Regions from separate parts of the Homo sapiens genome. Here all the other regions are linked to region 2. The links come from fine-mapping of genetic effects on gene expression. A gene starts in region 2. Each other region holds a variant in brackets. All regions are shown on one strand. Distances are from middle to middle. Region 1 has its middle 120 kb from the start of LPAR1. Region 2 holds the start of LPAR1 (lysophosphatidic acid receptor 1). Region 3 has its middle 110 kb from the start of MIR7702.

Evidence for each region.
Region 1: its variant is fine-mapped to the expression of LPAR1 in whole blood (INTERVAL, PIP above 0.99).
Region 3: its variant is fine-mapped to the expression of LPAR1 in monocytes (CEDAR, PIP 0.95).

Annotation. Positions count from the first base shown.
Region 1 is chr9:111,152,200-111,154,959 of GRCh38, reverse strand. No RefSeq gene overlaps it. Among named protein-coding and RNA genes, the nearest start is that of LPAR1, 120 kb to the right of the region's middle. The variant T/G (reference allele first, on the strand shown) is at 1,242.
Region 2 is chr9:111,036,927-111,039,686 of GRCh38, reverse strand. It overlaps LPAR1 (lysophosphatidic acid receptor 1), which reads left to right and starts at 1,217. Exons shown (of 6, transcript NM_001351411.2): 1 at 1,217-1,520. It overlaps LOC124902248 (a long non-coding RNA gene), which reads right to left and starts at 2,759. Exons shown (of 2, transcript XR_007061732.1): 1 at 1,898-2,759; 2 at 1-232. RefSeq lists a silencer at 1,448-1,787.
Region 3 is chr9:111,163,467-111,166,226 of GRCh38, reverse strand. No RefSeq gene overlaps it. Among named protein-coding and RNA genes, the nearest start is that of MIR7702, 110 kb to the left of the region's middle. RefSeq lists an enhancer at 462-2,760. The variant A/TA (reference allele first, on the strand shown) is at 1,637.

The sequences.
Region 1 (2,760 bases), 120 kb before region 2:
TAGTAGAGATGGGGTTTCATCATGTTGGCGAGGCTGGTCTTGAACTCCTGACGTGAAGTGATTCACTCACCTCAGCCTCCCAAAGTGCTGGGATTGCAGACGTGAGCCACCATGCCTGGCCACAACTCTTATTAAGCTCAAATTTGTAGCCTACTGCTATCTAGTGTACAGGATTTTATAGAATGTGCTTCATGTATTAATTCTGTCACCTGGTAGTAGTTAATCTCTACTTTTATTTCTCAACTTCATACATTTTTCTATGTTTTATTTTATTGTGATACCCGGAATGATACTGTGTACACTAATGGCTGAGCCTTTATACTCCCCTCTTCCTTGGTCATTGAATGGCCAATCTGAGGTTTCCCTGAGAAGGGTAAGACCTTGGGCAAAGCAACTCTAGGCAGCTGAGGCTGACCCTGAAGGAGGTGTCAGCTGGAGGCTCACCAATGACCACATTCCCCATAGCTGGGCAGCAAGTCCTTTCTTGAAAGGTGACCTGGGTCATGCATTGCTGTGTTCACCACAGCCTGGTTCTGAGAAACTTGGGAAAGTCACATCCCTGGCCCTGTCATGTGGGATGGATGAGGTGGTTCTCTGTAATATCTGCCCCTTCTCATTGTTCCAAACACTGCATTTTTCTCAACCACAGCTTTTCCTCTTTCCCCTGATGGGTGTTTATTTAAATTGCTTTAAAGTCACTGGAGTAGCTTGACTTAAAGCTTTGATGTAAAGTGTGCCTGCAAGACCCTCAGCATGTAGCTGTTCACACATAAGCCACAGCAAGACACAGCTGTGACAGGGGAAGAGGCCTCATTGCTGGCCCTGGAAGGAAATCCCAATTAAATTGCACTCATGGTTTTATATTTAATGAAAACCGCTTGGTGTGCTGCTGTCATTGTTTCATTTTTCTGTGGTGTTTTTGGTGGCTTGCAGTTTTGCATGCAGTTCCCAACCTCTGAGCTTTCTGTAGGTAAATAAACCTGAAATTGTATTAATGCATTGTTGGCTGCCATTTCCATTTGTCTACACCCAGAAGCCATCTCTGCTGTTTTCAATGAACTTTTTGTCCTTGAAGCAAATTAATCAAACTCAGCTGGTGTCATCATTTTAAACCCACAAGAAAAACAAAATTATTTTTCTCTTTTTACATTACCTGCTTCTCCAATCATCTCAATTAAGTTCTCCTTGGGACCATCTGTCTAGTGGAAGACAAATGGAGAAATGAATATGAGTAGCAGAAC[T/G]GCAAACAGGTTTTTATGAAAAGAAATTATATAATTAAACAAAGTGATATGCTTTGAATTTTCAAAGAAATATAAAAACCTATTTACAATCAGATACTCTCAGCAACTAATTTAGAGCAGTAATCTGAGGTCAAAATGTTTTAAACACTCCCAGATCATGGCAACTGTTTATTTTAACAATGCTTACTTAGAGTTGGTGCTACCAAATTTGCTTTTAAAACTCAGTGTGTGATATATCCTTTCCTAGTATTCCATTGGAGTTTTAATGGTATAGAAAACTAGATAAGGACCCTAAAACCAGATAAAACTAAATTAATAAATATCATGCAAACTATGGATAATAGGAGAGCATGTTTCAGAAAATAGAACTAACTTCTACCAGATGCAATGACACAGAGGCTGGATTGAAACTAAAAGATTATAACCTATACAGACTTCCTTACTAATGCCATTGAGTACTGCAAGCTGGAAAATAAAGCAGAGAGATATTTTGATTTTCCACTATCTGGCCTTAACTCTGAAAAACAAAAGATTTACTGGCCAGAAAAAGGTCAGTTTCCCTCCTGACCTCATATATGTGAATTCTTTTGTAAGAGTGTCAAATATGCTTTCCTCCCTCTCAAACTTTTATTCCCCATCAGATACTCAGATTTCTTTCTCTCTTTCCTTTTTCCTTTCCTTTCCTTCTTCCTCCTCCTTCCTCCTCCTCCTCCTTCCTCCTCCTCCTTCCTCCTCCTCCTTCCTCCTCCTCCTCCTTCCTCCTCCTCCTGCTTCCTCCTCCTTCCTCCTCCTCCTCCTTCCTCCTCCTCCTCCCTCCTCCTCCACCTCCACCTCCTTCTTTCTCTTCCTACTTCCTCCTCCTCCTCCTTCCTCTTCCTCCTCCTCCCTCCTCCTCCGCCTCCTTCCTCCTCCTCTGCCTCCTTCTTCCTCCTCTACCTCCTCCTTTCTCCTCCTCCTCTTACTACTACAGTTGCATAGTGTTTGCTTCAGGTAAAGAAGTTACATGTCAGGAAAGAAAAAGAATATTGAGGGTACAGGGAAGGCTTCCATGGTAGTATATCTGAACAAAATAAATCTTTAGACTGCACCGAATTTTCTATTATAGTCTGAGGCCTGGAGTTACACTAAAAGTCTCTGTGCATTAGTCTTTCTGAGATAGAGATTTAATCAGGATGGAAATAAATGGAAGAAGAATGAAAATAAGCTACATATTCTGATTGTAGGCAAAAATAAAGTCTGAATGAACATCTTGTTTAAGCATGAGAAAACAGAATAACATGAGGTCCATGAAATATTCTTAAATGTGCATTTTAATACATTATAACACAAACATTTTTAATGTTATCATTTACTTTAAGTATATTTTAATTATTATATTACACAGAATGGACAGTTTTTTTAGTTATTCCCCTGTTGTCAGATATTTAAATTATTTTTCTCACTAACAGAAGATATAATAACCAATTATTATGAAAATTATAAATTTTTAATTTTTAATAAAAAATTCTATAATTTAAAT
Region 2 (2,760 bases):
GCCCACGGTTACCTGGTGGCCACCACCAACATAGCCCCGCCTCGCTGTCCTGCGTTTCTCTCAATCAGATCAGTCCTGCCGAGTCCCCATGCCTTACTGCTGGTGTGCTGTGTCCTCTGTGCCATTTCAAGGCGAGGGCTCATGAAACTTTTACTCACACGCTGCTATTTTTGATATGCGGTGGCCTTAGCTGTGGAGCGAGAGGCCGATAATTGTGATCACTCCGGAAATCCTGGGAAGCCAGAAGTGGGAGATGGGTGTTGTGAGGTGGCGTGGCTAGGGAGACCCCATCGAGTGGGTGTGTTATAAGACCTGGGCGAATCCCTGTGGCTGCCACTCTCCTGAGAATGTTCCCTAGGCCTTAGTCCCGCGCCGCTCCCACCCACACCTCCAGGTGTGCAGTCCCCGCCCTTAATTACTCTCACTAAAATTGATAGTTTACACTTGCAAAGCTACACTGGGAAAGCGGAAGAGAAATTTATAATCGTGGATATGGAGAACTAGGGGAGCAGACACACTTGCTTTCGTTTACAGATCCAGTGAAGTGAAAAATCAGAACTAGAAACGTATGCACCTTCCTAGCAGCAAAGCCGCTTCTGCGTTCTTCGCAGCCTCCAGTGCAGGGCGGCGCTGGGAGAAACTTTGCGCCTTCTGGAAAGTTTAGAAAGTGAGCCACGAAAGAGAGGCCACATTTCCGGGGTTTTGCGGGCCCCGCGATGTTTTCCAGAGCTTTTCGAGTGGGAAGAGGAGAGCGACAACGTGAAAATGCCCCGTGCCGGGGCGTCCACCGGAGTCCTGCCAGCTGTCCGGCGCTGGGGTAAGCGCAGGAGGGGCGGGGGTGGGACCCGAGCTGGCGGCCACGGGTCTCCCGCTGCGGGTGTGTCGACTCGGGGGCGGGGCGGGGGAGGCTGCTGAGATAATGAATGGGAGGCTAAGGCCACCCCCCAGCCCCGGCCCTGCCACCACCGTGGGCTGTCGAGCCAATGAATGGAGGAGGGGGCGCAGAGGTCAGGGGCGCTGGGGGCGCCACACCAGGTAAGGGGTCCAGCTTGGGAGCGGGGAGGGCGGACTCTGGGGGTTCGGGTGTTGCTGACTTGTGCTACGTGGAACAAGCAGAAAAGAAGGAAGGCGGAGGAAGAGAGGAGGCTGGCGTCGGCGCTGCTCCTCTGGCCCTCCCTCTGCGCCCCCTCCTCCTGCCAGCGCGCCAAAGCCGGGCAGTAGGGGCCGACTGGCGGCTGACGCTCCCTGAGTGGCGACTCCGTCTCCAGCCCCGCTGCGGAGCGCGGGCCGGATCTGGGGCGGCCAGGGCCCGGAGCCGCGGAGCCCTCCCCGCCGCCCGGCCGAGCACGGGACCCCGGCGGGGTGGGCGCAGGGGGCGGCCCCGCTCTGGGCGACTGCCGAGGGGCGGGCGGAGGGCCGGGCTCGGCTGGCGGTGGGGCGGGGGCCGCCGGGACTGGGCGCGCGGCCTGAAGCCAGCCCGGGGGCGGCAGGAGAGGGACGCGCGGCGGCAGCGAGCGCAGGTAAGGGGGCCGGCGCGGCGTGTGGGGACGGCGCCCCCTGGGCGCGAAGCCAGAGGCCGCGGCGACTGCTCGGCCCGCCACACGGCGCGCTGGGCTCACACTGTCCCGCCGCGGACGGGCTTTGTGGTTGGGGGCGCGCGTGCGAGTGCCAGTGAGAGTGTGGGTGCGCGCTGTGGGCCGCGGCGCGGGTGGGTGGCCGTGCGTTCTTGCGAGCCGGCCTGCAGGAGGCGAGGCTCCCCTGGCCTCCCGCACCCAGCGGCGGACCGAGCCCCTGGAGGGAAGTTGCCGCAGCCGCCCGGGCCGCCGGCCCTCCTGTCCCGCGCCAGGTCAGTGCGCCCCGGGGCCCGCCCAGTGACACGTAGGTGGCCTCCGGTTACCTGGGTCGGGGTGGGTGCGCGGGAGGGCTTGCGAGGGGCCCTCGAAATTCTCCCAAAACCTCGTCCCGCTGGACTTGCACCTCCGAGGGGTCCCTGCGCCCCTGGGGCTCCGCACCTCTCGCTTCCCACTGACGACTCGGTTGTCCCCCACCACCGGGCTGAGGACTTTTAACTAAGTTTCTGTCCAGCCGCCTAACAAACGTGCTTAACAAGTAACAGGAGGTTGTAAGGCAAGGGAGGGACCTGGCTTTGAAAGTTGATGGTTTTGAAATCGACGGCTCCTTTGACTTGCGTAGGACTCCTTTGTGGTGAATGGATTTAAAGTTTATTCTTGTTTTTCTTTGCTGCCATTTGGTCTTTGCAATGTTAAGAGTGAAGGCATTCAGGACTTGCTGCTGCCTGCTGTCTGGGGCCTGAGGTTGTGGCTCTCCGCTTCTGCTCTCCTCTCTTCATTTTTGTTGAAATCCGTGGATTTTTTCATAAATGTGGGTGCTGGCTTGTTTCACTATGGACGCGTCGTTTCCTATGGGGTTAGATAGATATTGGTAAACATAAATATTGAAAATGTGATGATCACATATTGATGATCACAGCGAAATCCTCTATTCCTTCAGGCTCTAACAGTTTGTTTTTCACGTATTTGCATAAGTGTGTTTGCTCAGCTAAGCATAATTGGTAAGCCAGAGGTCTGTGATTCAGAGTCTGCAGTTCTGGTTAAGGGGAGACTGTACACTTGGAAAATGCGAAGTTTTTTAAGAAGTTATTCCCTTGCCGGATAGAAGAGTGGGTCCCAAGGAAAAAGGGTGTATTTTAGAGGTATGGTTATTTGAACCAAACTAAACATCATTAAAATACACAGGGAG
Region 3 (2,760 bases), 130 kb before region 2:
TGAAATAACAGCAAGACCCCAGAAATGGAGAGGTACTATGGCTACCCAGGCAATCAGGGGCGGGGCACAGCATTGGCTCCCTTAGTTGGGCTCAGCACTGGCAAAAACTGCAGGGTGTTGAAGCGTGCAGGTGTCTGCGTGGTGATGAGGGCCACTGGGATCCTCCTGCTTACCTTTTCCCCTTGGAAGAAATCCCTTCTGGCTCTGAGCTGATCCCAACTGAAGAATGGAGTAGTGCAAGCAAGGTGTTTTCTACACAGCCATCTTTGGTGTTTGTGCTTCACTGAGTTTCTGCTACCTCTTTGCTGTACTCCCGAGCTCTCTCCACAATTTCATTGGTATATGGTTATTAGTTGTTTTTGTGGGGGAGATGAAGATTGGCACCTTCTAGTCTGCCATTCTGCTGGTGCTACTCTCTAATAGGCTTTTAAGTGATAAATTTAACATGAATTAAAACTTAGTCAAGGAATGAATTGCCTACAATGAAGTATTTTTGAATCTTTCAAATAACCAAGTCATCTTTGGTTGTTTGGTGTCTTTTCTTTAGCTCACATTCTTCCATCCTGCCTACCCTTCTGAAAGTCTGACATTGATGAAGTCTCCTGAGCATCAGTGCACCTGGTATCTACCATGACAACACTGATGACAATGCTAAAAGATTTTCCAAATCCGCAGACCCTCAGGTTGCCTGAGAGATACTGCAATTCCATCAGTTTTCACCAAATCAAAGCTGTGCTGTGTTGTCGGCACAAAGGAGGAGCCTGTACTCTCCCTTCTCCGTATCACACCTTATCACCTGGGTAATACCATTCGCCTTTGTTTCCTTGGGGAAACAGCTTCTTTACCTCTTTCCTAAAATCCCATCTATTCCAAGGTACAAGGCCAGGAACCAAGACAAAGTTATACCTTATTCCAATTAACCCAATTATAGTTATACCCAATGATCCCATTTAAAGAGCACCCTGGCAAGCAATGTTCATCTGAACTATTTCTTGTTCCACATACAATGAATGTAGAAAAATGGATACCTAAGCTATTAGTCCATTCCTTATCTTCCATGCCCAGATATAAAGGAATCTCTTTAATGATCATCTGCAATACCCACCAACAAATTCATAGGCTGAGTTAGGAATTAATGATGCTCCATTCCCTTGTATCTTTCTGAAAATCTTCTTCAAAGATGGTGAGAACTCTCTACTTCAACACTTACTGTACTGCTACTACTTGTTTGATCATAGCAAAACCATTTTGCTCATAGCCCTCATTTTCTTTCTCCACGCAAGTCACTATCTTTACCTATATTCCAGAGACACAGTGAAGCACAACTAATTGACTCTAGTCAATCTATAGTGAAACAAGTGGCAAGAGAAGCCCAAAAATAAGCATTATGAAAATCTTAAGACTCTAAGCCAGTGAATTAAATAAAGAGGTAAAAGCCTGCATAAGAAAGAGAACTGACCTTCTGAGCTTTTGTCCCTCGGGGAATATTAGTTTTACCTTTTCTGCTAAAATGATGGCAGCTAGGCTGGGAACTTAGGCTAGATTATTTATTTAATGTGACAGCCCCTCCTCTCCTTTCTCTCTCTCCAACCCTTTCCCCATGACCTTTCCAGATTCTTCAAGTTTTTTTTTTTTT[A/TA]TTAAACTTCATCGAAAAATCAGAATTAGGTGAACAGGTATTGAAAACTTGAGTTACCTTTTGTTGCTCTTTGTTTCAAAAAAACGTTTAAATATTTCCCAGATGATCTTTACCTATGGAAATTAACGGCAGCAATTGCAGCCTTTAAAAAATGTTAAATCATCTCACTGATGTTCAGAAAAAACAAAAGTTCTGTAGTTCCAACTGCCTGTGTGGCAGGAGGAAAACTGAATTCTTGAAAAAGTCCTGTTGATTACAGCTTTCTCTTGCTAAAAGACTGATTGCTCAATGGGAAGTGGAAGATCACAAATCTTCCGCTTTTGGAACTAAATGATAATAGAGTTTTAATACCCTAACAAAAATAAAACCTCCTCCTGAGTGAGCTACTCAAACCCTGCATTGCTTGACTAATGTGTTGAGTTAAGTAGGGAGGCCTGCAATGTAGTAATTTCTCCAAGGAGGCTGCAGGGAGAGGAAAGTACATTCCAGACACCTAATCATTTACAATTGAGTTTAATGAGGTAGTAATTTACAGCTTTGGGGGTGGAAGTTTGGAAAGGTCCCTGCCAGAAACTGGACAGACTCTAAAATCCTGGAGTTTAACGAAGGCATTAGAGGGTGGTTTCATACAGCCGAACTTGTGTAATTCCATCTGCTCAGTGCTTGGACAGGAAGTAAATGACAGGGCACTTGGGACCTACATCTGCAAACAACAAGTTTCAGAGATTTTATAAATCCTGCAGTAAAAGGAGAAGAAGAAAAAAGAAAAAAAACGGAGGTGAAAGGGCATAATTATGGAGGATGAGGAAGTACAACAAAGAACGGGCTTTGCAGGTTCTTTTTGGTTTGAAAAATAACATTTTCTAATGTCAAGGCCAGCCTTTGATTATAATTGACAAAACACACTTATCAAGCCTGATATGAAAACAGAAGGTACTGAAGCTTCCTTTTTGGACAGGATTTGGATGAAGGCTACAGAGTAGTTCAGGATCCACTGAACTTACCTGAAGATGCCTTTCCAGTCTTCCAGCAGTATAGCTGTTACCTTCTTGTCATCATTTCTTGGTTTGTAATATACTGGGTTAATTTTGCTTTCTGTTCACTGCTGCTTTTTAAGTACAGCT